Linked DNA regions of Homo sapiens. The protein of the gene in region 1 purifies or fractionates together with the protein of each later gene. This does not show direct contact. Each region holds a gene or a part of one and is shown in the gene's direction. Other genes may lie near its edges.

The links.
Region 2: the proteins of MFAP4 (region 1) and LRIG2 purify together in Homo sapiens (affinity purification with mass spectrometry; one large-scale study listed by BioGRID and IntAct). This does not show direct contact.
Region 3: the proteins of MFAP4 (region 1) and EDEM3 purify together in Homo sapiens (affinity purification with mass spectrometry; one large-scale study listed by BioGRID and IntAct). This does not show direct contact.
Region 4: the proteins of MFAP4 (region 1) and ITGA7 purify together in Homo sapiens (co-immunoprecipitation; one large-scale study listed by IntAct). This does not show direct contact.
Region 5: the proteins of MFAP4 (region 1) and RDH13 purify together in Homo sapiens (affinity purification with mass spectrometry; one large-scale study listed by BioGRID and IntAct). This does not show direct contact.
Region 6: the proteins of MFAP4 (region 1) and HPSE purify together in Homo sapiens (affinity purification with mass spectrometry; one large-scale study listed by BioGRID and IntAct). This does not show direct contact.
Region 7: the proteins of MFAP4 (region 1) and FBN1 purify together in Homo sapiens (co-immunoprecipitation; one study listed by IntAct). This does not show direct contact.

The regions. Positions count from the first base shown.
Region 1 is NC_000017.11:19,384,391-19,388,541, reverse strand, and holds the start of MFAP4 (microfibril-associated glycoprotein 4 isoform 2 precursor), read left to right. Parts: upstream 1-1,351; 5' UTR 1,352-1,386; coding exon 1,387-1,392; exon of another isoform or gene 1,393-1,423; coding exon of another isoform or gene 1,424-1,501; intron 1,502-1,703; coding exon 1,704-1,782; intron 1,783-2,077; coding exon 2,078-2,232; intron 2,233-3,087; coding exon 3,088-3,184; intron 3,185-3,260; coding exon 3,261-3,443; intron 3,444-3,832; coding exon 3,833-4,080; 3' UTR 4,081-4,151. UniProt on the Homo sapiens protein: Could be involved in calcium-dependent cell adhesion or intercellular interactions. May contribute to the elastic fiber assembly and/or maintenance.
Region 2 is NC_000001.11:113,125,198-113,128,697, forward strand, and holds part of LRIG2 (leucine-rich repeats and immunoglobulin-like domains protein 2 isoform 1 precursor), read left to right. Parts: 3' UTR 1-3,500.
Region 3 is NC_000001.11:184,716,859-184,720,358, reverse strand, and holds part of EDEM3 (ER degradation-enhancing alpha-mannosidase-like protein 3 isoform 2 precursor), read left to right. Parts: intron 1-790; coding exon 791-916; intron 917-1,113; coding exon 1,114-1,197; intron 1,198-2,735; coding exon 2,736-2,819; intron 2,820-3,346; coding exon 3,347-3,471; intron 3,472-3,500. UniProt on the Homo sapiens protein: Involved in endoplasmic reticulum-associated degradation (ERAD). Accelerates the glycoprotein ERAD by proteasomes, by catalyzing mannose trimming from Man8GlcNAc2 to Man7GlcNAc2 in the N-glycans.
Region 4 is NC_000012.12:55,694,405-55,697,904, reverse strand, and holds part of ITGA7 (integrin alpha-7 isoform 2 precursor), read left to right. Parts: intron 1-82; coding exon 83-210; intron 211-358; coding exon 359-454; intron 455-627; coding exon 628-689; intron 690-836; coding exon 837-1,006; intron 1,007-1,472; coding exon 1,473-1,622; intron 1,623-2,267; coding exon 2,268-2,383; intron 2,384-2,934; coding exon 2,935-3,127; intron 3,128-3,209; coding exon 3,210-3,290; intron 3,291-3,382; coding exon 3,383-3,462; intron 3,463-3,500. UniProt on the Homo sapiens protein: Integrin alpha-7/beta-1 is the primary laminin receptor on skeletal myoblasts and adult myofibers.
Region 5 is NC_000019.10:55,056,649-55,060,148, reverse strand, and holds part of RDH13 (retinol dehydrogenase 13 isoform 1 precursor), read left to right. Parts: intron 1-873; coding exon 874-992; intron 993-3,340; coding exon 3,341-3,496; intron 3,497-3,500. UniProt on the Homo sapiens protein: Retinol dehydrogenase with a clear preference for NADP. Oxidizes all-trans-retinol, but seems to reduce all-trans-retinal with much higher efficiency. Has no activity toward steroids.
Region 6 is NC_000004.12:83,321,349-83,324,848, reverse strand, and holds part of HPSE (heparanase isoform 1 preproprotein), read left to right. Parts: intron 1-2,484; coding exon 2,485-2,630; intron 2,631-3,500. UniProt on the Homo sapiens protein: Endoglycosidase that cleaves heparan sulfate proteoglycans (HSPGs) into heparan sulfate side chains and core proteoglycans. Participates in extracellular matrix (ECM) degradation and remodeling.
Region 7 is NC_000015.10:48,635,710-48,639,209, reverse strand, and holds part of FBN1 (fibrillin-1 isoform a preproprotein), read left to right. Parts: intron 1-3,500.

The DNA.
Region 1 (4,151 bases):
TTGAGGCTGCAGTGAGCTATGATTGCACTTGGGCAACAGGGCAAGGCCCTGACTCTAGTATCTTATCTATATATAGATATAAATACGTAAGTGACTGTGCATGTACATATCAAGCCTACTCTGTGCCAGGCTCTGTGATGGGCACTGAGCATGCAGAAATGAGACACACACCCTGCTCACTGGCCCTTATGGCCAACAAAAGGAGGCAGATGAGCGGGCACCACAAGGAGCAGCACAAAAGAGTGGGGACCTCCATGGTGAAAAGTCTGGAGTGGCTGCACTGTAGTTTATGAGTCACAGCAATAAGGGACAAGGTCCTCAAGGTAGGCCAGAGACAGACTTGAAATTCCTTTCATGTCCAAGGTGAGAAACCTAGCCTCAGCCCTGAGGCAATAGGGAGCCATGAGGCTTTAAGCAGGGTGACATAATCTGAGAGGCCATCTAGAACAACTCTCCTGGTAGTGTGCCAAGGATAGGAGGAGAGAGCCCAGAAGTAGGGAGATTCAGATGAATCTGGGAGGTGTGGGAGCCAAAGTGAAGGGTTTGGAAGAAGAAAGGAGGGGTGGAGTGAGGAGAAACAAAAGAGGTCCCATACCTATTGCATGTGAGCCAGATGGGCCAGGGAACTGTGGGAGGGGAAAAGAGTGGGCCTGAGGTGGCCAGAGTGAGGGGGGCTGGGGAGGGGGACTGGAGAGGGGCCCTGGCCTGAGCTGGGGCAGACAGAGCAGTTGGACGCCAGCAGCCTTGTGCTCATGGCTCAGAAATGTCCCAGGCCTGCCAAGAAACTGCTGCCTCTGTCCCCCCACCAGCCCCAGCCAGGCTCCCACATCAGGAGCTCTGAAACTGTCCCCTCAGCCTTCTGCTCCCCCAGAGCAGGCCTCCCGTCCCCAGAAGCCAGGCATATGACACCCCCACTCTCCCTCAGCCCTCCCCCTCAATGGCTGATGAAACACAGGCCAGGGAAGGAGGGGAAAGAATAAACAGACATCTGCAGGGGGGCCCATCAGGAAGTAGGGGGCAGGCTGCGGCGGGCTGGGGCTGCCTGGGGGCGCCAGGGGGCCCACAGGTCTAGCAGGGTGGGTGGCAGATGGCGGATAGCGGATGGAGTGGGATCCAGGGAACAGTTGGAGCCAGCAGGGAGTTAACGTCTGCAGTACTTTGCCCGACAGGACTAATGAGACACAGGTGGTCCCCTGGCTCCAGCCCCACCTCCCAGCCCCCTGATAGTGTAAACTGATGCTGGTTGTCTGGGGTGGGGAGAGGGGGGTTCTGCAGCTACGGGAAGGGGGGCGGGGCTGGGGCGGCTGGCGGGGGCCCAGCGCATAACTCTGGGCGGTTGCAGTCTGGGGCCGCAGACACCCAGCCACTCTGAGCAGAACTGACAGCATGAAGGTACGGGGCCCAGGGTCGGGGGACTCATAGCATGGGGGAACTGAGCCCACTCCAGAGGCCCCTGGCCACAGAGGGCACTATGAAGGCACAAGGAGTTCTCTTGAAACTCGTAAGCTATGAGGGTACACAGCGTCCCAGAGAGTGGGGTTACTTGGCGGGCGGGGTGGGGGGGCAGGGAAGAGGGGCCAAATAGCAGGAGAGGGATTCAGGCAAGGGCAGTATGTGCATGCATGGTGGGGGCAAATGCAAAGAGAACAGGGGATCTCTGGAGCTGGGAAGGGGCTGTGCTGACCCTGTCTGCCCATCGCCAGGCACTCCTGGCCCTGCCGCTGCTGCTGCTTCTCTCCACGCCCCCGTGTGCCCCCCAGGTCTCCGGGATCCGAGGAGATGGTAAGCAGCCCCACACTCACAGACGCGGCCTGGCCCACAGGTTGTGCAAGAAGAGGCTGGACTGTCAGAACAGACTGTCAGGGCCGAGCCCCAGCTCTGCAGGACTCAGGTTCCTCCTTTACAAAATGGGGCAGATGGATGACATAAGCATTGCTCATCTCCCTTGAAGAAATCTTCCATGACTCCTTGTGTCAAAGTCCCCCAGCCCCAGGGACTGAGGCAAACCTTGGGGTGCTGAGGTGTCAGTGATGCCATAGTCCCACTCTCCTCACTGTCCCCATGTCCCTACCCCCAGCTCTGGAGAGGTTTTGCCTTCAGCAACCCCTGGACTGTGACGACATCTATGCCCAGGGCTACCAGTCAGACGGCGTGTACCTCATCTACCCCTCGGGCCCCAGTGTGCCTGTGCCCGTCTTCTGTGACATGACCACCGAGGGCGGGAAGTGGACGGTGAGTGGGAGGAGGGAACAGAGGCCAGAGCTGGTTCTAATCCCAGCCCTGTGACCCTGGGCTTCACATATGCGAACCTCAGTTTCTTCATCTTTAAAATGGGGATAATGATACCCACAGCACAGCTTCTGAGCAGCTGCCAACGCTTAATTCTAAGTGCCTGAGGTAGGTGTTTGTTTGTTTGTTTTGAGGCGGAGCCTCACTCTGTCATCCAGGCTTGAGTGCAGTGGCTCCATCTCAGCTCACTGCTGGAAACTCCACCTCCCAGGTTCAAAAGATTCTCCTGCCTCAGGCTCCCGAGTAGCTGGGATTACAGGCATGTGCCACCATGCCCAGCTAATTTTTTTATTTTTAGTAGAGATGAGGTTTCACCATGTTGGCCAAGCTGGCCTTGAACTCCTGACCTCAGGTGATCCGCCCGCCTCAGCCTCCCAAAGTGCTGAGATAACAGGCGTGAGCCACCGCGCCCAGCTGAGGTAGGTTAATGCACATAAGCCTCACAATAATCCTGGGAAGTAGTGAGGAACTAAAGCCCAGAGAGGTGAAGTAACTTGCCCAGATCCCACAGCTAGGCACTCGAACTCTAGAACGCCTCCCTCTTAGCCTCTTTCCTGCCTCTATACGAAACTGGGTATGAAGAGCCCAGGTGGGTGCTGGCAACTGCTCCACAGGGGGCCTGGTGCCAATGTGGACGTTGTTTTAGCAACCCCACTCCCACCACCCTCCCCACCCCCAACCCAGTCCTTTAACAAACTGGCCACAGCATCACAGGGTCCATGCTTGAGGTGGGCAGGGCAGGACCAGAACCTTGCCCATTGGACCCTTGATGATCCAGTCTCATCTTCTCTGCTCCAGGTTTTCCAGAAGAGATTCAATGGCTCAGTAAGTTTCTTCCGCGGCTGGAATGACTACAAGCTGGGCTTCGGCCGTGCTGATGGAGAGTACTGGCTGGGTAAGGCAGGGACCAGGTGGGCTGAGGGGCTGCCCCAGGGCCAGGTCCTTGTTGACCAGCTGCCCCTCCTCCCCAGGGCTGCAGAACATGCACCTCCTGACACTGAAGCAGAAGTATGAGCTGCGAGTGGACTTGGAGGACTTTGAGAACAACACGGCCTATGCCAAGTACGCTGACTTCTCCATCTCCCCGAACGCGGTCAGCGCAGAGGAGGATGGCTACACCCTCTTTGTGGCAGGCTTTGAGGATGGCGGGGCAGGTATAACCCGCTGTTAGCTTTGGGAGGGGCTGTGAGGGGAAAGAAGGCAGGGCTGGCCCTGCCCAGTCAGCCCCAACCTCCTTCAGGCCCCTCCTTCAACCCTTCTGGATCTGGAAGGGCCACAGCTGGCTCCAAACAAGCTCAAACCAGCTTGGGCCTCAGCCCTGGGGAGCAGCCATCCTGGCCCTGCTCCAGGCAACTCTGTGGTGGAGCAGCTGTTTCTCTTCATTGCAGAAGCACATCAACCCAACATCTGGCTCAGGGAGGGTGCCCCCATCCCGCCAGGCTGCCACGTGATATCTCTCACAGTCGTCATTGTCACCCTCTCCCGGCCAGCTCGGGGCTCAGTTCCCTGCCTCAGCAGCCCCAACCCTTCTCTCCTCTGCCAGGTGACTCCCTGTCCTACCACAGTGGCCAGAAGTTCTCTACCTTCGACCGGGACCAGGACCTCTTTGTGCAGAACTGCGCAGCTCTCTCCTCAGGAGCCTTCTGGTTCCGCAGCTGCCACTTTGCCAACCTCAATGGCTTCTACCTAGGTGGCTCCCACCTCTCTTATGCCAATGGCATCAACTGGGCCCAGTGGAAGGGCTTCTACTACTCCCTCAAACGCACTGAGATGAAAATCCGCCGGGCCTGAAGGGCTGGCCCCCTCAGGCACCTTTCCTCCCCTGGACACCCATGGTCTCCATGAGTGCTCCCTCTGCTGCC
Region 2 (3,500 bases), on another chromosome or scaffold:
ACTTACTTGTTAAGAAGTGTATCTATAGAGGCAGCTACTTAGTGATTGTATACACATAAACACAGTCTTGGTGTAATTAACCGCCTTCTTCATGCCTAGAGGTTCATACTTCTGGTCATTTGCCATCTGTTTAAAAGTGCTAGGTGATACTCCCTTTCTAACATAAAAAGCTTGTTCTTTCAGAGCCTGGCAGTCCTGTCACAGCTGTATGCACCTAGAGGAAAACTTGTTTGGAAATTCCTTTCATTTCCTCCCCCTCTCCCTCCTTCCCTCTTTTTTTTTACTGAAACAGAAATTGATTGAGGAAGGTTCAGTCATTCCTTCAGGAACCAATGAGTTAGATCGGGTTGTTACTTTATGTATAATGAACGCTTCAAAAACTGGAGGCTGATTTAAAGATTGCAGAACTTGAGTCAGACTCATAAGCAGTACTGTGACATGAATTGGAGCCAGAACAGTTGCTGATATCAGAACCATCTCTTTCATTCTGTGACTTTGCTCTTGCCATGTTCTGACTGGGGTGAGCCGCTAGGATACAAATCACTATCACTGTCCATATTTGAGTCTGCAAATCTTGTCATTGTCTGCTTTAATGCTCTTTGAGTTGCAACAGGTGTATTATTTAAATGAGTATTTGAAATTCTGTGAACAGGAATTCTTTTGGTAGTGAAATAGGTGCTCACACCTGCTTGCTCAGAATGTGAAAATATTATTTCTGAGTTCTCTTTGTTCACTTTCTAAAGTGACTGTTGTTTGGTGTTGGAGATGTTAACTGGGTTCTATTAGGTGTGCTATATCTTGGCAAATATTCCCCATGATGAACTCTTCCTACTATCACAATCAGGACTATGACTGGATTTCTCAGTCTCAGTGCCCCAGATTCACCATTTCTGATTGTGTCTGGAGAACGTTTTCCTGGAAAGGCATTCCATGTTCCAAAAGCTACAAAAACATGCCACTTTGCAACTATGGGTCAGTTATTTGCTCTCTCAATGTCTCATGTTGCTGAGTTCTAGAAAATCTCTGTCTCATTTACCAGGGGTCATTCAAAAGTCTGAGATGTATATTATCATGAAATATTTGTGAAATTTCTCACCATGAATTTGGAGGGAACCTACTTTTATTTCTCGCTCTGGTTCTCCATTGGTCTGGGCTCCTGCTTCTCAGTCTTCTCTGACCTCTGGTAAGTGGAACTTTCATTAATACTTCTGTCGCACTTTGTACCTGACCTAGGTGGCCTTGCAAATGTTGACTCAGATTGTGGATTTTCCACTTTCCTCTGTTTTCCCTATTTTCTCCCCTGGGAAATCTTGCAGATGATGCATATTCATTTTCTGTATTCAGCCTTCCATTATTAAGGATAAAATTGATCCCTACATTGAATCTGAAATTACCACTATATGGATTACTCTGGCTCACTGCTGTCCAAGCTTGGTTTTCTCTTTGCTTACTTCCTGTCATATTTTCAGTTTGCCCAAAAGAGGTAAGCCACTTTATTACAGACCCATTACTAGTGCTAGACGTCATCCACCTCTGTTTTCACCTGATTCTTGTGGGGAATCCTCTTTAATTTGTTGTAACCTTCTCAGCAACTCTTCTGTACTTCACCTATAGTGCCTAGCAAATTGTTATCACTCATAAGCCTGTAATCTTCATCACTCAGGTTATTTGCAAGTAGAAAGCTTCTGGAACCATTTGTCCATCCGACTTCTGCACTGGGCCACATCCATCTTCTTCATTGTCAGAATCTGAGTTTTCTGTCTTGAAGAACAGCTGGAAAGTTGTCTGGCTGTTATGACACAGTATTGAAATACCAGACTGAGTTTCAGTTGTTTCTAGTTGTGTTCACTTTGTGCTTTCTCTGAATGGGAATATCTTCTTTCAGCAAAGTTCTTCATTGACCAGGAAACCAAAGATTGCTTCTTTTCCAAGTTTGTTTTGTTTTTAATCTTTTACCAATGTGCAGTATATCTTAAGAAGGGAAGAGTGCTCTTGGGAGTAGAAGAACATGCAAACATTCTTTTTTCTTTATTATTATTTGAGATGGAGTCCCTCTCGGTCACCCAGGCTGGAGCGCAGTGGCATGATCTTGGCTTACTGCAACCTCCGCCTCCCAGGTTCAAGCAATTCTCTTGCCTCAGCCTCCCAAGTAGCTGGGATTACAGGCACACCACCATTTCCAGCTTTTTTTTTTTTTTTTTTTTTGATATTTTTAGTAGAGATGGGGTTTCACCATGTTGGCCAGGCTGGTCTTGAACTCCTGACCTCAGGTGATCTGCTTGCCTTGGCCTCCCAAAGTGCTGGGATTACAGGCATGAGCCACTTGCCTGGCCCCAAAATTCTTATACTGTAAAGCCTTGTAGTGGTCCTTATTTTTTTTTTTTTGAGACGGAGTCTCGCTCTGTCACCCAGACTGGAGTGCAGTGGCACAATCTCGGCTCACTGCAACCTCTGCCTCCCGAGTTCAAGCCCTTCTTCTGCCTCAGCCTCCCAAGTACCTGGGATTACAGGCATGCACCACCATGCCCGGCTAATTTTATTTGTATTTTTAGTAGAGACGGGGTTTCTCCATGTTGGTCAGGCTGGCCTCGAACTCCTGACCTCAGGTGATCCACCCGCCTCGGCCTCCTAGAGTGCTGGGATTACAGGCGTGAGCCACCGAGCCCGGCCGGTCCTTATTTTATACAAGTGATTAAGCCAAAAATTTTCTTGAATTTCTGATACCAAAGAGCTTTAGGTAAATAACTTCACACTCTAATGCAATGTAATTCTTTCTTTGTGCTTTCAGATTTCCTTACACTTCCTGTCCAGTTCTCTCTTCTAAATCCAATATTACTCACTAGATAATTTCAGCCACTTAAATAAAAATATCTATTTTTAAGTCCTGGTTCAAGGGTTCCAAACTCACATAATTTCTCAACTTTTTGCCAGAAAGTTGAGCATTTATTCATACTTATTTTCAATCCTAAGTGTTCTCCCATGGGCAGCAGCACTTCTTGAGCTGTTTAGTACTGCCACACCTTTTTATGTCTTTACTATGTCAGCCTCTGATCATTTTCACTTTGAACTTCCTAAAGATCACAATTTCCTATCCCTTCAATCTGCGATCCCTCTTCTTCCTTTCTTACTAGATTATGGTGTAGTTTGTACTAGACTGACTCATTAAGACCTTGTACGCTTCCTGAGTCTGCTTATTACTGGCTTTGTAATCAAGGGTGAGTCTTTTTACTTCTCTAGGCTAGATTTTCTCATTTATGAAATGAGGACATTTTTCTAGATGCTGTAAAGCCCTTTCCAGCTGTAACATTCTATGAATCTGTAATTCCCTCGAGGAGCTAAGGAGGATTATGCTACTTTAATAAAAAGCTGCTTTGGTGACATTTGTTCGAGTAGAACAAGAGTGATGCTGCTCATTCTGACTTGAGCCAGATGTATTTCCTTTATAGCAGGAGTAATGGTCTAAGAAATACTCATTAGGAGAAAAAAATTCTGCTTCTAAA
Region 3 (3,500 bases), on another chromosome or scaffold:
GCATTCAAAGTGATTAGAGCAGTGCCTTTAACCTATGGCCAATATTCAATAATAGTGATTAAATAATAGGTAAATTTGCAAAAAAAAAATTAGTAAAAGTTAATAAGTCATTAATTGAATACTTTCTAAAATTATCACATAGATTGTTTATTAGATTATAACAAGAATTTCTTGAGGTAAATGGGGACAAATAACTATTTTTGTTGGCTTGTTATCACAACTCAACCTTTTGTCAAAGCTGAGAAATATCTAGGAGAAGAAGACAAAAGAAGGGAAAAAGAGTTTTCTAAGACCATAATAAGCTGAGATAGCAAACCATAAGAGTGGCAGCAGTGATTAGCTGCATTAGTTTAGATAGTAGTGAGCACCAAAATATTGTTAGCCGAGAAGGGATCAAACTTCCAAGATACAGGAAAAAGCAAATTCTGTAATACAGAAGCTGATAGCTATATTACAAGGGGACCTATGAGCATCAGTGGGCCGCAAAGTCATACCAACCACGGGCTAACGCCACAGGGCATAGAGATGTTCAGTTCCATTTTTCTCAGAAGGTCCTATATTACAGATAGTCTTTAATAGTCTGCATGTGAGTTAGAGGACATAAAGGAGTACATATATATTTTAGAAAGATCTCCATCTAAAATAACTTAAATATTTATATAAATTGGTAGTTATTTAGTGAATTTATATATAAATTCTAGTTTAATTTATTCACAGTGCTATTTAATGTGTTTAGAGTAGTACCTCTTTTTTCATCTAACTTTCATGAACACATGTTGTGATCTTTTAGCACTATGATGCCATAATGAGGTATATTAGCCAGCCACCTCTTCTACTTGATGTGCATATCCACAAACCAATGCTGAATGCTCGGACTTGGATGGATGCTTTGCTTGCCTTCTTCCCAGGCTTGCAGGTATAAAGAATTCTGTCTTCTTAATATGAATGTAAGATGATGATGTTAATTAGGCGCATTTTTGATCTTTAAAACTGAACTACAAAACATAGTTGCAGTTCAGAATTGTATTTGTATACATTTTTCTGTTTATGTAATGATTAGAGATAAAATCAGCTCATATTTTATTAGGTAATTTTATTGTTGTTGATTTCTAGGTGTTAAAGGGGGATATTAGACCTGCTATTGAAACTCATGAAATGTTATATCAGGTGATTAAAAAACACAATTTTCTACCAGAGGTAAGCAAATAATTTTTGGAATAATCTTACACACACACAAACACACACACACACACACGTACACATATACACTATAAGTTGCTAATATAAAGGTAGAAAATGTCATCTTCAAGGCTTGTTGGTTCTTTTTATTTTTTTCCTATTAAATAGTTTATTTTTGGTTTGTACAGTATTATATATGTTTTTGCTTTTCTTTGTGTGTTAAGAGAAGTCTGATTTAGGGTAATGCTGACATTTTTAAAATTTTATGTAAAAAAATTCCCAGCTTAGTTCTTCTCAACTCTTCCTAACTTATGCCATTGTAATATTCTCTCATTCTAACTCTTGTATGTACCTACCAGCTAGGGAGATTTTGTCACTTTTTATTTTCTAAAGCTTGTCTTATGAAAACAGTATATATTAGATATACTTTTGTTGTTCACACATGCCCTCTGGAAATGTATAGAATGCCATCTCTTCCTCATGCTGATTGAGAATTATTCTTCCTGATTTTTATACATCATATTAGTAATAAATATTCTTGCTAGCTTAATATGACAAGATTTTAATAGCATACTTTTTGGCTTCCCAGAAATGTACCGTTAAAAATTTCCAAATGTGTGTATGGCCTTGTTCTATCCCCGCTTATTGACTACCCTCTGTGAGATATCTAAGCATTCTACCAACTTAGAAGGGTTCCTAAAGTGTTTGTTTTGGAAAGTATAGTTTTATTAGCCTTCGGGTGAGTAGGACTGTGCATTGTAGAAAATTCATATCCATACAGAATAAACTGAGGTTTCAATTAATACATCTATCACAAATGAAATTTTTATTTAGCTCCCATAAAAGTTTTTGTTTGCTTTTATTTTTATTTTCTTTTAAAAACCAATTGATTATGTTATTGAATAAATTTCAAATAGACTAATTTTATTTATTTCTAAATAATGCTCTGTCTTATTCCACAAAGGATTTGAGGCTTTTAGAAAATATAAGCTAAAATATGAAATATGTATGCTTACACATTGCTAAGAGAGATTTTAAGTATTCTCACCACAAAAAAAGAGAACTATGTGAGATAATGCATATGTTAATTAGCTTGATTTAGCCATTTCATAGTGTATAAATATATCAAAACATCATGTCATATACCATAAATATATGTCACTTTTATTTGTCGATTTAAAAAATTTAAAAATAAATATGAGAACTAGGAGAGTAATAATCCAGAGGAAAAAGTAGAGGGAAGGATAAAAAGAAAACACAATTATGTTTACCACCAGGACCCATGTAGTGGCATTGCTGAGTTTCATTATGGAGTTTTTCTGAGTTTTCTAATAGCCAGAATGATCACTGAAAAAATAATCAATTTAATTGGTAAAAATAGCAGCCTTTGCAAAATGAATTGTTATTTTAAGCAATGAAAATTGATGTTTTATTGATGAAAATGTCCTGATTGCTATTTTAATTGCTTTTACCTATTTATATATATTCTATATATTCTGGAACTACTTGTGTATTTAATCACATTTTTTATGCCTTTTGTATGTTGTTTTGTTCAGGCATTTACCACAGATTTCAGAGTACACTGGGCTCAACATCCTTTAAGGCCAGAATTTGCAGAAAGTACCTACTTCTTATATAAAGTAAGAAAATATACCCCATTTTACTTAAAGTTTAGCCTCCATTCTCTGTTGGATCTCTCATTCTTTCATAATAGTAATTGGGTTTTCAGAGTCCCCTTTTAATATTATAATGATTGGATATATCATGATTCTTATTCATCTAGTCCATAGAATTATTGAATGATGCAAGAATTGACATGCAAGGTTTTTTTCTTTAAAAAATATTATGTAAACATTTCTTTAAAGAGAAATTTTATGTTCTAGAGCTGCTTTCTAAAGCATGTCTCTTGCCTTTCTTCAGGCAGCCTTTCTGAGCATTAGAAATTTAAAAACTAAGGTTATATAGTTAAATTTTATAATTGTGTATTTAAGAAATTCTGTAAAGCAGATTCATAGCTTTTTTTCAGAACTCAGTTCTATATAATGTCCTTCAGTGCCTGATACAGTGCCTGGCACCTAGTAGGTACTCAATAAATATTTGGTAAATGAATGGATATGTGGTAATATATAAGCTATATATATTATACATATATTCTCCTTTTTAATAGGCTACAGGAGATCCTTACTACCTTGAAGTAGGGAAGACACTTATTGAAAATTTAAATAAATATGCTAGAGTGCCTTGCGGATTTGCTGCCATGAAGGATGTTCGTACTGGAAGTCATGAGGACAGGTAAAACAATTGCTAACATCCTCTTTCCT
Region 4 (3,500 bases), on another chromosome or scaffold:
TGGGTGGAATCAGCAGAGGCATCAGGGGAGGCAGAGGCCTGCGGGAGGTGGGATTGAGGGAGGCTGACAGCTGGTTCTCTAGGTGCTGGAGGGCGAGGCTGTGGGCATCAAGAGCTTCGGCTACTCCCTGTCAGGCAGCTTGGATATGGATGGGAACCAATACCCTGACCTGCTGGTGGGCTCCCTGGCTGACACCGCAGTGCTCTTCAGGTGAGCCCCTCTCAACCTTTTCCCTCCCTGAGGCCGTCAGCCCCTCCCTGTGACTCTGACCCCGACCTCAGTGCCAAATCTAATGCTGAAGAGTGTTTCCCAGCCTCATGTTCTCATGTTTCTTGTGCTCTTGACTCCCCAATCCCAGGGCCAGACCCATCCTCCATGTCTCCCATGAGGTCTCTATTGCTCCACGAAGCATCGACCTGGAGCAGCCCAACTGTGCTGGCGGCCACTCGGTCTGGTGAGGTGGGATCGGGTGGCACCTGGACCCTGGCAGCTTCCCCTGCCCTCCCTTTGATCCTTTATCTCCCCAGTTTGGGGCTGGGGCTGTGACAGGATGTGACAGATGGGGTGGGGGTAGGGGCCTTGGCCCATCAGCCTCGTTTGGCTCAGGAGCCACCTTTGCCCCCGCAGTGTGGACCTAAGGGTCTGTTTCAGCTACATTGCAGTCCCCAGCAGCTATAGCCCTACTGTGGGTGAGTGCGGTCCCCCCTCTGTGGCTCGCCCTTTTGGGTTTCCCAGGGAGGGGGGTCACTTCGAGGTGGTAGAAGAGCACCCTTGGAATGGGGTGAGCTGGAGCAGCTCTGCAGCTCAGCAGCTCCTCCTTTCCCAACATGCCACAGCCCTGGACTATGTGTTAGATGCGGACACAGACCGGAGGCTCCGGGGCCAGGTTCCCCGTGTGACGTTCCTGAGCCGTAACCTGGAAGAACCCAAGCACCAGGCCTCGGGCACCGTGTGGCTGAAGCACCAGCATGACCGAGTCTGTGGAGACGCCATGTTCCAGCTCCAGGTGGACACTGACCCCTTGGCTTCTGAGGGTCATTTTCATGGCTCCATCTCTTTTCCCTGATTCCTCTTAGCTGCTTTTTCCCGAGCACACTCGTGCCTCCTTCTAAGACCTAGACACGTGGGAAACCTGTCTTCTGAGCTCACTTCCTCCTCATCTGCTGCCCTCTCCTGTCATTTCTGCACTCCCTGGAGGAGGAGGAGGTGCAAGGGGCTTCATGTCCCCTCTTCCAGCTGAATGGAGGAGGTGGCAGCTTTTATCATCACATCTGGTCCTCAAAGCCCTAAAGGTTTCCCCTGTCCCCTACCCCAGTCTTTCTCCCTCCTCCTTGCTCAGTTCTCCACCTCTCTCATTCATCTCCCTAATATTCTTTCCAAGTTTTAGAATTGGTCCTAGGTCTGGCTGGGGCACTGAGCAGGGCTGAGGCCTGGGGATTGTTCCAGTGAGGAATAGACCTTCCTCTTCCTAGGAAAATGTCAAAGACAAGCTTCGGGCCATTGTAGTGACCTTGTCCTACAGTCTCCAGACCCCTCGGCTCCGGCGACAGGCTCCTGGCCAGGGGCTGCCTCCAGTGGCCCCCATCCTCAATGCCCACCAGCCCAGCACCCAGCGGGCAGAGGTGAGCATGGGTTCTGGTTTAGCCCAGGGGGAGGAGCTGGGAGGGCAAAGATCATGGTCCCTCCCCAGTGACACCAATTCACAGCTCACAGAGCCCTTTCACGTATGCTACTCCAGTAATTCCTCATATCTCTAGGTGCCTAAATGACCATGTTCCTAGTCAAGGGGACAGAGCTCCTCTACTCCATGTAGTCATTCAGGGGGCTCAGGTTGATGGGATTCTGTAATCTTCAAATGCGGCCTTCAAGCTCTTGAAGTCACATTCATCCCATTCAGCTGGAAGGGAGAACATGAGGCCCCTTGCTTGCATGGTTTTTATGGCTGGCCCAGAAGTGGTGCCCTTGACATCTTTTCCCGTTCTAAATCCGGAACTCAGTTACATGCATGTGAGCTGGGGCAGTGTGGCCCAGCTCTTGACTTGCTGCTAGTCTCTACCATGGCATGGTAGTGCTCCCATCACTACCATGATGAGAGGACCCAGAGGAGAGGACCCAGTTCAGGATCACATGGCTAATAAGCAGCAGATCTGAGAGTTGAGGACAGGTTGTTTAATCCTGTGATACTCTAACCCACCATATGCCATGGTGACAGGTTTGCCCCCTGCCTTGCCCCCTAGGAATGCCCCTTATCTCATGTCTCTCCCCAGATCCACTTCCTGAAGCAAGGCTGTGGTGAAGACAAGATCTGCCAGAGCAATCTGCAGCTGGTCCGCGCCCGCTTCTGTACCCGGGTCAGCGACACGGAATTCCAACCTCTGCCCATGTGAGGGGGGCAGAGAGCAGGGTGGGGGTGGGAGGGCAAGAGTTCAAGGATTGAGAGAAAGCCCTCTCAGGAGGACCAGTCAGAGGGAAGGGCTGAGCCTGCAGAAAAGGCAGAAGGTGGAAGAGGACCTGCCGATGGACTTGGAGACTGAGATGAGGGTCAGTGATGGGGCCACGGGGGCTCCCATGGCAAGGAATAGCAATCCTTCACAGTACACTAATAATATGCAGTCTACATACATCTCATTGGTTAGTCTTCAAACCTCTGTGAGGTAGGAATTATATTAGTCTCATTTTATAGATGGAGAACTGAAGCCTAGAGAGGTTAAGTTACTTGGCCAAGGTAAGTAATGGTGGAGCTGAGATGAGAACGGAGGTCCCCTGACTCCCAGTCGTGTGTACAGAGGCCTGAGGCTTGGACGGGTGTGATGGGGACCTGGGGTGGGAAGAGAGGCTCAGGGAGTGAAGGCAGGTACTGGGGGAGCAGACTGGGCGGGGGAATGGTAGGGGGAGGTGTTCAGAACTTAGCAGGAGTGGGGTCTGACTCTCCAGGGATGTGGATGGAACAACAGCCCTGTTTGCACTGAGTGGGCAGCCAGTCATTGGCCTGGAGCTGATGGTCACCAACCTGCCATCGGACCCAGCCCAGCCCCAGGCTGATGGGGATGATGCCCATGAAGCCCAGCTCCTGGTCATGCTTCCTGACTCACTGCACTACTCAGGGGTCCGGGCCCTGGACCCTGCGGTGAGGACCTGGGGGCAGGATGGGGTGGGGTCTTGAGGGGCTCCAGTAACCCAGACTGACCTTGCCTTCTCTCCCATTCCAGGAGAAGCCACTCTGCCTGTCCAATGAGAATGCCTCCCATGTTGAGTGTGAGCTGGGGAACCCCATGAAGAGAGGTGCCCAGGTTGGCACATCTGCCCTTATCCCTACGTGAGTAGCCTCTCCATAAGCCCGTAGACCACCCCTGACTCTAATCTCTTTCCACCCTTGGCCTAGGTCACCTTCTACCTCATCCTTAGCACCTCCGGGATCAGCATTGAGACCACGGAACTGGAGGTAGAGCTGCTGTTGGCCACGTAAGCCAGGCGGGGCCGGAAGGGTGAGGTGGGGGTAG
Region 5 (3,500 bases), on another chromosome or scaffold:
ACCAATCCACCTCAGCACAGACCCTTTACGGGTGTTGGGCTGGGGGACGGTCAGGTCTTTCTCATCCCACGAGGCCATATTTCAGACTATCCCACGGGGAGAAACCTTGGACAATACTCTGTGTTCAAGGGCAGAGGTCCCTGCAGCTTTCTGCAGTGCATCGTGCCCCTGGTTTATTGAGACTAGAGACTGGCGATGACTTTTACCAAGTATACTGCTTGGAAACATTGTGTTAACAAGGCACTTCCTGCACAGCCCTAGATCCCTTAAACCTTGATTTCATACAACACAGGTTTTTGTGAGCTCCAGATTGGGTCAAAGTGGCTGGGTCAAAGCTACAAATTAACAACATCTCAGCAAAGCAATTGTTCAAAGTACAGGTCTTTTTCAAAATGGAGTCTCTTATGTCTTTCCTTTCTATATAGACACAGTAACAGTCTAATCTCTCTTTTCCCTACACATCTGGCTAATTTTTGTATTTTAAGTAGAGACGGGGTCTCGCCATGTTTGCCAGGCTGGACTCGAACTCCTGACCTCAAGTGATCCGCCCCCGCCCCCCCCCACCCCCAAAACTTTGGCCTCCCAAAGTGCTGGGATTACAGGTGCAAGCCCCCTCACCTGGCCGGGAATCTCATGCAGTGAGCATTTATAAAATAATGACTGTCACTTGCTGAAGGCGTTCCACACGCCAGACACTGGGTGGAGCCACTTATGGAGAACATGACAGAGGTCCCTTGGTGTGATGTGATGATGTCTGTGTTTCAGTTGGGGTATGTGAGTGAGCTCAGACAAGGTTGCCTGAGATCATTCAGTCAGGGGCACGTGGGGTGAGAGTGGGCCCACAGGACTGACCGTGCCGCTTCTCACCCTCAGGGACTATGTCACCGGTGGGGCTTGCCCCAGCAAGGCCACCATCCCTGGGAAGACGGTCATCGTGACGGGTGCCAACACAGGCATCGGGAAGCAGACCGCCTTGGAACTGGCCAGGAGAGGTAAAATCTCCCCTGCTTTGGCTCTCAGAGAGATATCTGTACATCCATGCTCACTGCAGCATTATTCACAGTCCGGAGGTGGAAGGAACCCAGGCACCCATCCACAGATGAACAGGGAAACAGAATGTGGCTTCTATAGACAGGGGCATATGATTCAGCCTTAAAAAGGAAGGGCATTCTGGCCGGGCGCGGTGGTGCACGCCTGTAATCAGTACTTTGGGAGGCCAAAGCTGGCGGATCACGAGGTCAGGAGTTCGAGACCAGCCTAACCAACATGGTGAAACCCCCTCTCTACTAAAAATACAAAAATTAGCCAGGAGTTGTGGTGGGCACCTGTAGTCCCAGCTGCTTGGGAGGCTGAAGCAGGAGAATCGCTTGAACCTGAGAGGCAGGGGTTGCAGTGAGCAGAGATGGCGCCACGGCACTCCAGCCTGGGTGACAGAGTGAGACTCAAAAACAAAACAAAACAAAGCAAAACAAAAAAAAGGGCATTGAAACAGATGAACCTTGAGGACATTCCATGAAGTGAAATAAGCCAGTCGACAGAAGAGCAAATACGGTATGATTCCACTTACAGGAGCTACCTACAGTTAAATTCATAGAGAAGTTGGAATGGTGCTTGCCAGGGGTCAGGAGGGGAGGGGAGAATGGGGAGTTACTGTTTAATGGAAACGGAAGTTTAGTTTGGCAAGATGAAACAATTTGAGAGATGGATGGTTGTAATGGTTGCACAACATTAGGAATTATTATTATTGTTTTTTTTTTTTTGAGATGGAGTTTTGCTCTTGTCGCCCAGGCTGGAGTGCAGTGGCATGATCTTGGCTCACTGCAACCTTCGCCTCCCGGGTTCAAGCAATTCTCCTGCCTCAGCCACCCGAGTAGCTGGGATTACAGGCATGCAACACCACACCCAGCTAAGTTTGTAATGTGTTGGCCAGGCTGGTCTTGAACTCCTGACCTCAGGTGATCCACCTGCCTTGGTCTCCCAAAGTGCTGGGATTACAGGTGTGAGCCACCATGCCCGGCCCAGCCATAAATGTTTTTAATACCAATGAACTGGACACTTAAAAATGGCTAAGAGGGCGGGTCTCGGTGGCTCACATCTATAATTCCAGCACTTTTGGAGGCTGAGGCAGGAGGATCACTTGAGGCCAGGGGTTCCAGACCAGCCTGGACACCATAGCAACACCCCCATCTCTACCAGAGTTAGCCAGGCATGCTGGCACAGGTGGTACCTATAGTCCCAGGTCACTTGAGCCTAGGAGTTCAAGGCTGAATGAGCTGTGATGGCGCCAGCACTCCAGCCGCGGCAGCAGAGTGAGACTGACTCAAAAAAAAAAAAATAATAATAAACAAAAAGAAAAGGGGGTTAAGATGATAAATTTTAAGTGATTTGTATTTTACCACAACAAAAAAAATTGGAGGCTGGGCATTGTGGCTTATTTGTAATCCCAGTACTTTGGGAGGCCGCGGGGTGGATCACCTGAGGTCAGAAGTTCAAGACTAGCTTGGCTAACATGGTGAAACCGCTGTCTCTACTAAAAATAAAAAAATAAAAAATTAGCTAGTTGTGGTAGGTGCCTGTAATCCCAGCTACTCGGGAGGCTGAGGCAGGAGAATTGCTTGAACCCAGGAGGTGGAGGTTGCAGTGAGCCGAGATTGCGCCACCGCACTCCAGCCTGGGTGACAGAGTGAGACTCCATCTAAAAAAAAAAAAAAAAGGAGAGGATGGGGAATCCTCTTGCCTTGGCCTCCCAAAGTGCTGGAATTACAGGTGTGAGCCACCGTGCCCGACCAATTCAGTGATGTTTAGTATAGTCACAGAATGATGCAACCATCTTTAAAATCAATCTTAGAACATCTGTTACCCTAGAAAGAAACCTGCTCACTGTAACTATCAAGCTGTAATTCCCTCTCCCCACCCCCTGCCCTAGAAAACCAAGAATCTATTTTCTTTCTCTATGGATTTGCCTATTCTGGGCGTTTCATAGGTGTGAAATCATATACATAGAATTCATGTAAATGGGATTGTACGCTGTGTGGTCTTTCGTGTCTGGTTTCTTTCCCCGAGCACAGTGTTTCTGACGGTCATCCTTGCTGTAGCATGAGCCAGTGCTTCACTCCTTTTCACGGCCGTCTAATATTCCATCTCTATGGATGGACCACATTTTGTTGTCCCTTCATCCACAGATGGGCATTTGGTTGTTTCTACCTTTTGGCTTTTGTGAAGAATGCCGCAGTGAACATTGGTGGATGTGTTTTTGTGTAGACGTATGTTTTCATGTCTCTGGGGTCAGTACCCAGGAGTGGATTATTAATTTAAATCTTTTTCCATCCTGGGTTTTCAGGAGGCAACATCATCCTGGCCTGCCGAGACATGGAGAAGTGTGAGGCGGCAGCAAAGGACATCCGCGGGGAGACCCTCAATCACCATGTCAACGCCCGGCACCTGGACTTGGCTTCCCTCAAGTCTATCCGAGAGTTTGCAGCAAAGATCATTGAAGGTAG
Region 6 (3,500 bases), on another chromosome or scaffold:
CACCACTATCTATCTCAGAACTTCTTCGTCTTCCCAAACTGAAACTCTGTACCCATTAAACAATAGTGCATCCTCTGTTTTCCCCTCCCTACAATTTATTTTTATTTGGGTTTGTACCAAACTGAAAATAGCTGCTTCTTCCTTACTTAGTTCAGATTAGCATTTCCATTTATTTAGCCGTGGTTTTGAGGATGCCATGACAGATGCCATCCTTCCTAGAGCTCTTTGGGGCTGTCAGGTATTTCAGTCAGGGTGAATTCGGGTTGATAACATTTTAAAATCTCACTTTATTCTGAGGTTCCTAGTGTCAGAGCCCACCGTATTTTTAGGGACTCCCAAGTTACAAACAAAAATATGGTGAGGAGGAATCACTGAAGTTTTAACACAAGAGACTTACATTTTGTTCAATTTCTATCTTTTAGTTTATTTCCTAAGCATAAAGAAATACTTTGAAAATTTTACATAGCATTATACATATTTAATTAAGCATGAGCACATCTTAAAACTTTAAATTTTAGATCAGATCTTTAATTCCTAGGATATTAAGAGGTACTGGCAATTTGGCCAGGTGTGGTGGTTCACGCCTATAATCCCAACACTTTGGGAGGGTGAAGTGGGCGAATTGCTAGAGCCCAGGAGGTGGAGGCTGCAATGGCCTGAGATCACGCCATCGTACTCCAGCCTGGATGATGAGAATGAAATCCTGTCTCAAAAAAAAAAAAAAAAAAAAAAAAAGAAGAAGAAGAAGTATTGGCAATCAGTGCTCCAGGAATAATTTCCTGACTTGAAATAAACCTACATGTAGACAAACTAATTAGGCCATTCCAAGAGTTGCTAGCATTGGTTTAATATGTTTTCAGAGCATTCCAGGAAGCAGTGTGGCCAGCATTGCATGTTTGATACTTCAGAAATGTATGACAGGTGTTTCTCTTACCCAGGTCTTCTGTTTTCTTAGTTTTGCTCATGTAAATATTTATGAACATCCTCATCTTTTTGAGGGAAGGGATTATAGATCATTCTAATTCCATTTTCTAGCATTTGGTACCATTCTAAGCACATGATAGGCACCCATTTGGAGCATTTTTGGCTTGACAGAATATGCATTTAGAATTGTTCAAATTAGAGGTGTCAGTGATGGGAATTAGAATACTATATAATTCTAAGTCATTTGACTTAAATACAAAAGAATGATTTTCCTTGGTGGGGAATGGTGAAGGGAGGCAGGAGTTAAGAAGAGGAGAAGAGATCCTAAGTCATTTATAAACTTCTCTGGAAAGACAGGTGTGTGAAGACTTTTTAAAAAGTCATTCACCAAATTGTGTGTGTGTGTGTGTGTGTGTGTGTTTTAAATAGACTTTATTTTTTAGAGCAGTTTTAGGTTCACAGCAAAATTGAATGCAAGGACAGAGATTTCCCATAAACCCCCTGCCCACACACATGCATAGCCTCCCTCATTATCAACATCCCCACCAGAGAGGTGTTTGTTCTAGTTGATGAACCTACACTGACACATCATTATCACCCAAAGTCCATAGTTCACGGCAGGGTTCACTGTCGGTGTACATTCTATGGGTTTGAGCAAATGTATAATGACATGTATCCACCATTATAGTAACATACAGAGTATTTTCAGTGCCCTGCAAATCCCCTGTTCTCCACCTATTCATCCCTCCCTCTCTGCATTTCCACCCCCAGCCCCTGGTAACCGCTGATCTTTTTACTGTCCCATAGTTTCGGACGATCTATTTTTCAGACAGACACAGAGCTGTCTTTCCCTTAGTTTCTATTCTATCATTTCTTTCTCCCCATCCATCATAAAAGGCTATGAGTTTTTTTTAAGTGTTGAACACCATCCTACTTGTCAAGTTAAAACATAAGCTCCTGGCTGGGTACAGTGGCTCATGCCTGTAATCTCAGCATTTTGGGAGGCTGTGGCAGAAGCATCACTTGAAGCCAGAAGTTTGAGACCAGCCTGGGCAACATAGCAAGACCCCATCCCTCCACACACAAACACACACACACACACACACACACACACACACACACACACACACACACAAACAAGCTCTTGCCAGAATTAGAGCTACAAATTGCCCTCAGGTTCCTAGAAGATCAGTCCTTCAATTAGATTCAGATTGAGATGCTTCCTCTTTTAAACAATGATTCCCTTTCTATCATGCCCAATAAGAAAACAAATAAAAATTAAACAATACTGCCTGTAATCTCAGCTACCCAGGAGGCAGAAGCAGAACTGCTTCAACCCGGCAAGCAGAAGTTGCAGTGAAGTGAGATCGCGCCACTGCACTCCAGCCTGGAAAACAGAGCAAGATTCTGTCTCAAAAACAAAACAATGTGATTTCCTCCTCTAAGTCCTGCACAGGGAAATGTTAAGAAATAGGTCCACCAGGAAAGAAGGAAGTAAGAATGTTTGACTAGATTGTCTTGGAAAAAATAGTTATACTTTCTTGCTTGTCTTCCTAACAGTTCTCCAAAGCTTCGTACCTTGGCCAGAGGCTTGTCTCCTGCGTACCTGAGGTTTGGTGGCACCAAGACAGACTTCCTAATTTTCGATCCCAAGAAGGAATCAACCTTTGAAGAGAGAAGTTACTGGCAATCTCAAGTCAACCAGGGTGAAAATTTTTAAAGATTCACTCTATATTTTAATTAACGTCAGTCCGTCATGAGAATGCTTTGAGAAAACTGTTATTTCTCACACCTAACAATTAATGAGATTAACTTCCTCTCCCCTCATCTGACCTGTGGAGGAATCTGAACAAGAGGAGGAGGCAGTGGGCAGGTTTCCTTATCATGATGTTTGTCATGTTCAGTGTGAGGCCTCACAAAAAAAAAAAAAAAAAAAAGGCGTCCTGGATATAACTGAGAGCTCATTGTACAGTAAATATTAATAAAACAGTGATTGTAGCTGAAGGATAGAACTGCTTGGAGGGAGCAAGTGGGTAGAATCGCGTCAAACTAAAGAGCATTTCTAGCCAAAGACACAATGATAGATTGAAGGATATTTATTCTAAATATAGAATATGGGTGAACGAGATCTGTGGACTTCTGGGCTCCAACGTTAGATTCTGATTTTAGCAAGCTTGTCAGGGGATTCTGATATTGAAAGGCTGTGGCCTTCACCTGAGAAACCTGCCCTAGGGGGCCATGAAAATTTGTCCTGTCTTTCAGAAGTGCTATCAGACATCAAATGGAAGTTAAATCGTATCTTAACAATTACTAGGATGGGCGCAGTGACTCACACCTGTAATCCCAACACTTTGGGAGGCTGAGGCAGGAGGATCACTTGAGCCCAGGAGTTCGGGACCAGCCTGGGCAACATAGAGAGACGTTGTCTCTATTTTTTAATAATTTAAAGAGAAAAAAATACTGAAAATATTGTATACACCACTGAATTATAATAATGTGTATATAACGTATATATTCATTATGAGGAATATTTGATTATTTCATATATTATATCTTTTCCTTCTGTTTATTTTATC
Region 7 (3,500 bases), on another chromosome or scaffold:
AAACTTAACGTTAACTTTTCTTTCTCCATTAATTTTAGTTATGGTTTTGGTTTTTCATTCCACCAGACAAAAATGCAGGCCCAAGACATTGGTAAAATTCCACTTAAAATTCCTAATATTCTTTCATGCTAGTTCACAAATCCTAAGTATGGTTAATCACACAGTATTATTTAGTCCAACAAGAAACTTTCTGCAAAGACATTAATAAAACAGAAAGAATCATAGGATGTTAGAGCCAGTGGGACTTTGGACAGCGTATTATATTTTAATATTAGACCTTGACTTGTGTGAGGGTGGTAGGTAACCATTGCAGGCAGCCTGCTGGGCGTTGTGTGGGCTTCTGAGCTGGAGGCATTGCTGTTTATGTTGTTCAGAACCCTCTTGCTGTCATGTCCCCTGTGAGAAATCTCTCTGAATAGGGTTGCAAGAAGTATTTCTCTTTCCAGTGGAAATTGGTATGTGTCTTAAATCACGACCAGTCATATGAGTTATTTAATTATTTCTTTTTCATTTTTTAACCTTGGTTGCCTGTAAACTCAGCCCAATTTTTTACATTAAATTGCAGCCATAATGGTAAAAAAAAAAAAAAAAAGCTCTGATGTATCACTTATGATTGTACTTTGCAAATACTAATTCCTTTAAAACATAAATCCTTTATGAGGAAAATTAAGCTTATTTATTCATTTAACAAATGAAGAAACAAGGGATGCAGAGTTTCAGTAATTACTCCAGGGACATAAACTAGTAAGTGGTAGAGTTGGAAAATCTAGCTTCATAGCTGGAGCTCTTAATCTTAATATTTTACTGCTTTACAGTTATAATAAATCTTGTAGCTGGTAAATTTTTTTCTTTCATACCTTTTATACCTTCGTTTCCCAAGAATCTTCTCCCACCATTGCTATGTGGAAAGACTCAACATTTATTGATGGCAGATGCTGTTACAAGCCAAGGGAAGCATCATTGTGGGAATGGGATTGATCAGAAGTGACTTTACAGTGAAAGTCTATTAGGGCTGGGCATGGTGGCTCATTCCTGTAATCCCAGTGCTTTGGGAGGCTGAGGCAGGAGGATCACTTGAGCCCAGAGGGTTGAGGCTGCAGTGAGCTATGATCATGCCACTGCACTCTAGCCTGGGCGACAGAACAAGATCCTGTCTTAAAAAAAAAAAAAAAGTTTATCAGTGGTCAACAAACTGAAGACCAAGCTCACTTTTTTTGAAAATAGAGTTTTATTGAAACAAATCCATGCCTGTTTATTTACTTATTATGTATGGCTGCTTTCTCCCTACAGCAGCAGAGTGGAGTAGTTGCAACAGAGACAGTATGGCCCATAAAACTGAAACATTTGCTCTTTGGTCCTTTACAGAAAAAGTTTAACAACCTCTGATCTACGTGATAAAAAGTGACTGTCTACTAGGAGTGAGAACTCCTTGAAGGCAGAGATCTTGCTTGTTTTATTTATCTCTAGGAACATCTAGGAACTGGGTATGCGGCACATGTTCAATAGAATAGTTTTTGATAGTTGAACTCTGAGCAATTTTGATGAGCTGATTAACTGGGTATGGTTAATTATATAGACTAGAGCTTGGAGTAAGTATAGCTGAGAAATAAAGGAAAGATGAGTGAAAAATACATCAAGGGAAAGGGATATGAAGTGTCTGAGGTCTTAGGACATTGACTGCAGTTGGGCAGGGTTGGCACGGCATGGTTCCAAGTGACATGGTTTGTAGTGCAGTCTATGAAACGAGTGCCCTCTGGAGCTGTGCAGTTTGCAACCTTGAGCAATCTTGTGAGCCCGTACATAGGTGGCAATGTTGTTAGGGAAAGGAGAGGGACTAGTGGAAATATAAATGTCACTGATGTTGTGAAAGGCAAGGACGGGGAGCTAGTAAAGGATTCTAAGATAGGAACATGATCAGATCTTTGCCACTGGGTAGAGGTGTGAAGGGTAGATGATTAGAGAGAAGAGAGACTAAAGACAGGGAGATTTGGATTTAGGAGGCTAATATAGGAGTCACAGTGAGAGTCCACGATGGTCTGAGCAAATTCAGTGAAAGGGGTGAAGAAAGAAGAGACTCAGGTGGTTCCAGAGTTAATGCAGACAGTACTTGACTAGTTGGTTGTGAAAGACAAAGGCGAGGAGGACCTAGAATGCTCCCACCTCCATATATATTCAAACTTACCATACACGAAGTCATTGTAGCACCATAAAGAGAAAATAAAGGGAAACGAGATCAGGCCTAGGCCCTCTACTACCATGAAACAAAGTATTTTCATTTGTGAGTGTTTGAGTTATTTTATTGCTACGTAACAAATTGCCCCAGACTTCGTGGCTTAAAACAACAATTTTATTCTTTCTCATGATTCTGTGGCTCAGGAATTTAGACAGGACACAGTGGGGAATCTTGTCTCTGCGCCCCACAATGTCAGTTGGGCTGGAACAGGCAGTATGACTTCTTCACATATGCATCTGGTTCTGTGACCAGGCACTGGCGCCTGCAGCCCTGTTTACTTGGGTGTGGTTTATCTAAATGGACCCACTGAGGAGGGGAATAAAGGAAGCAAAGAGCCACTTGTCTGGCTCTGCTGGGGGCCTTCCAAGTTTTAAAGCTGTCTCTCATGCAGTCTCCTGCCTGAACCTGCCCCCGGGATGGAGCCATTGAATGTGTTTTTTTTCAAATGGGGAGACTGAGCCCCAGATGCAGCGACTAGGCCTTGCTCAGAGTGAGTGTCTGTTGGGGCTGGATCTTGAACAACAGCCTCCTGACCCTGGTCACATGTGTTAATCCCACATATTGACCGTAGGCTAACTCGAAGGGCTGGGGGCTGGCTGGCTGGGGTCACATGGACTCATATGTCCTCGACATTGCCTGGCTTCCTTGATTCTCCTTTATATAGTCTCAGGTTGTCCCCTTTCTATACGTGGCCTCTCTACATGGTCTTTAGAGCAGCATAGCCAGACTTTTTCCATGGCAGTTCAGGATCTCTCAAGAGCACAAAAGTGGGAACTACCAGACTTTCTTCAAACTTAGCCTGGAATCGCATGACCTGGAATTCCATCCAAGTCATAGGCCTCATCCAGATTGAAGGGCATGGACTATTAAGACCTACCTTTGGATGTGAGGAGCATCATGTGTCTGCTGGGAGGGGAGAAAGTGGAGCCATCTTTGGAGACCAGCTACCACTGTGAGGCAATAGATCTTTGAGAAGGCTAATCAGATACTTTAAGTTTTAATTCTAACTTGATCAAGTTCAGTTGGCTTAGTTCTCTACTGAGGATGCCTCATTGTATTTTGCTGCTGTAACTTCAGAATGAAAAAGCTCCATAAATATTGTGTTTGCATGTTCTGTTAGATTCATGTTAGGGCATTGATCTTAGTTTGTCCACAGTTCTGCATTTAAAGAACTCACAACTGTCAGGAATAAAATGAAAGTTCCTAATGAAGCAGTATGTTTTGTTTTATTCAAATATGAGAATTTCAAAACATCTAACCATTTTCC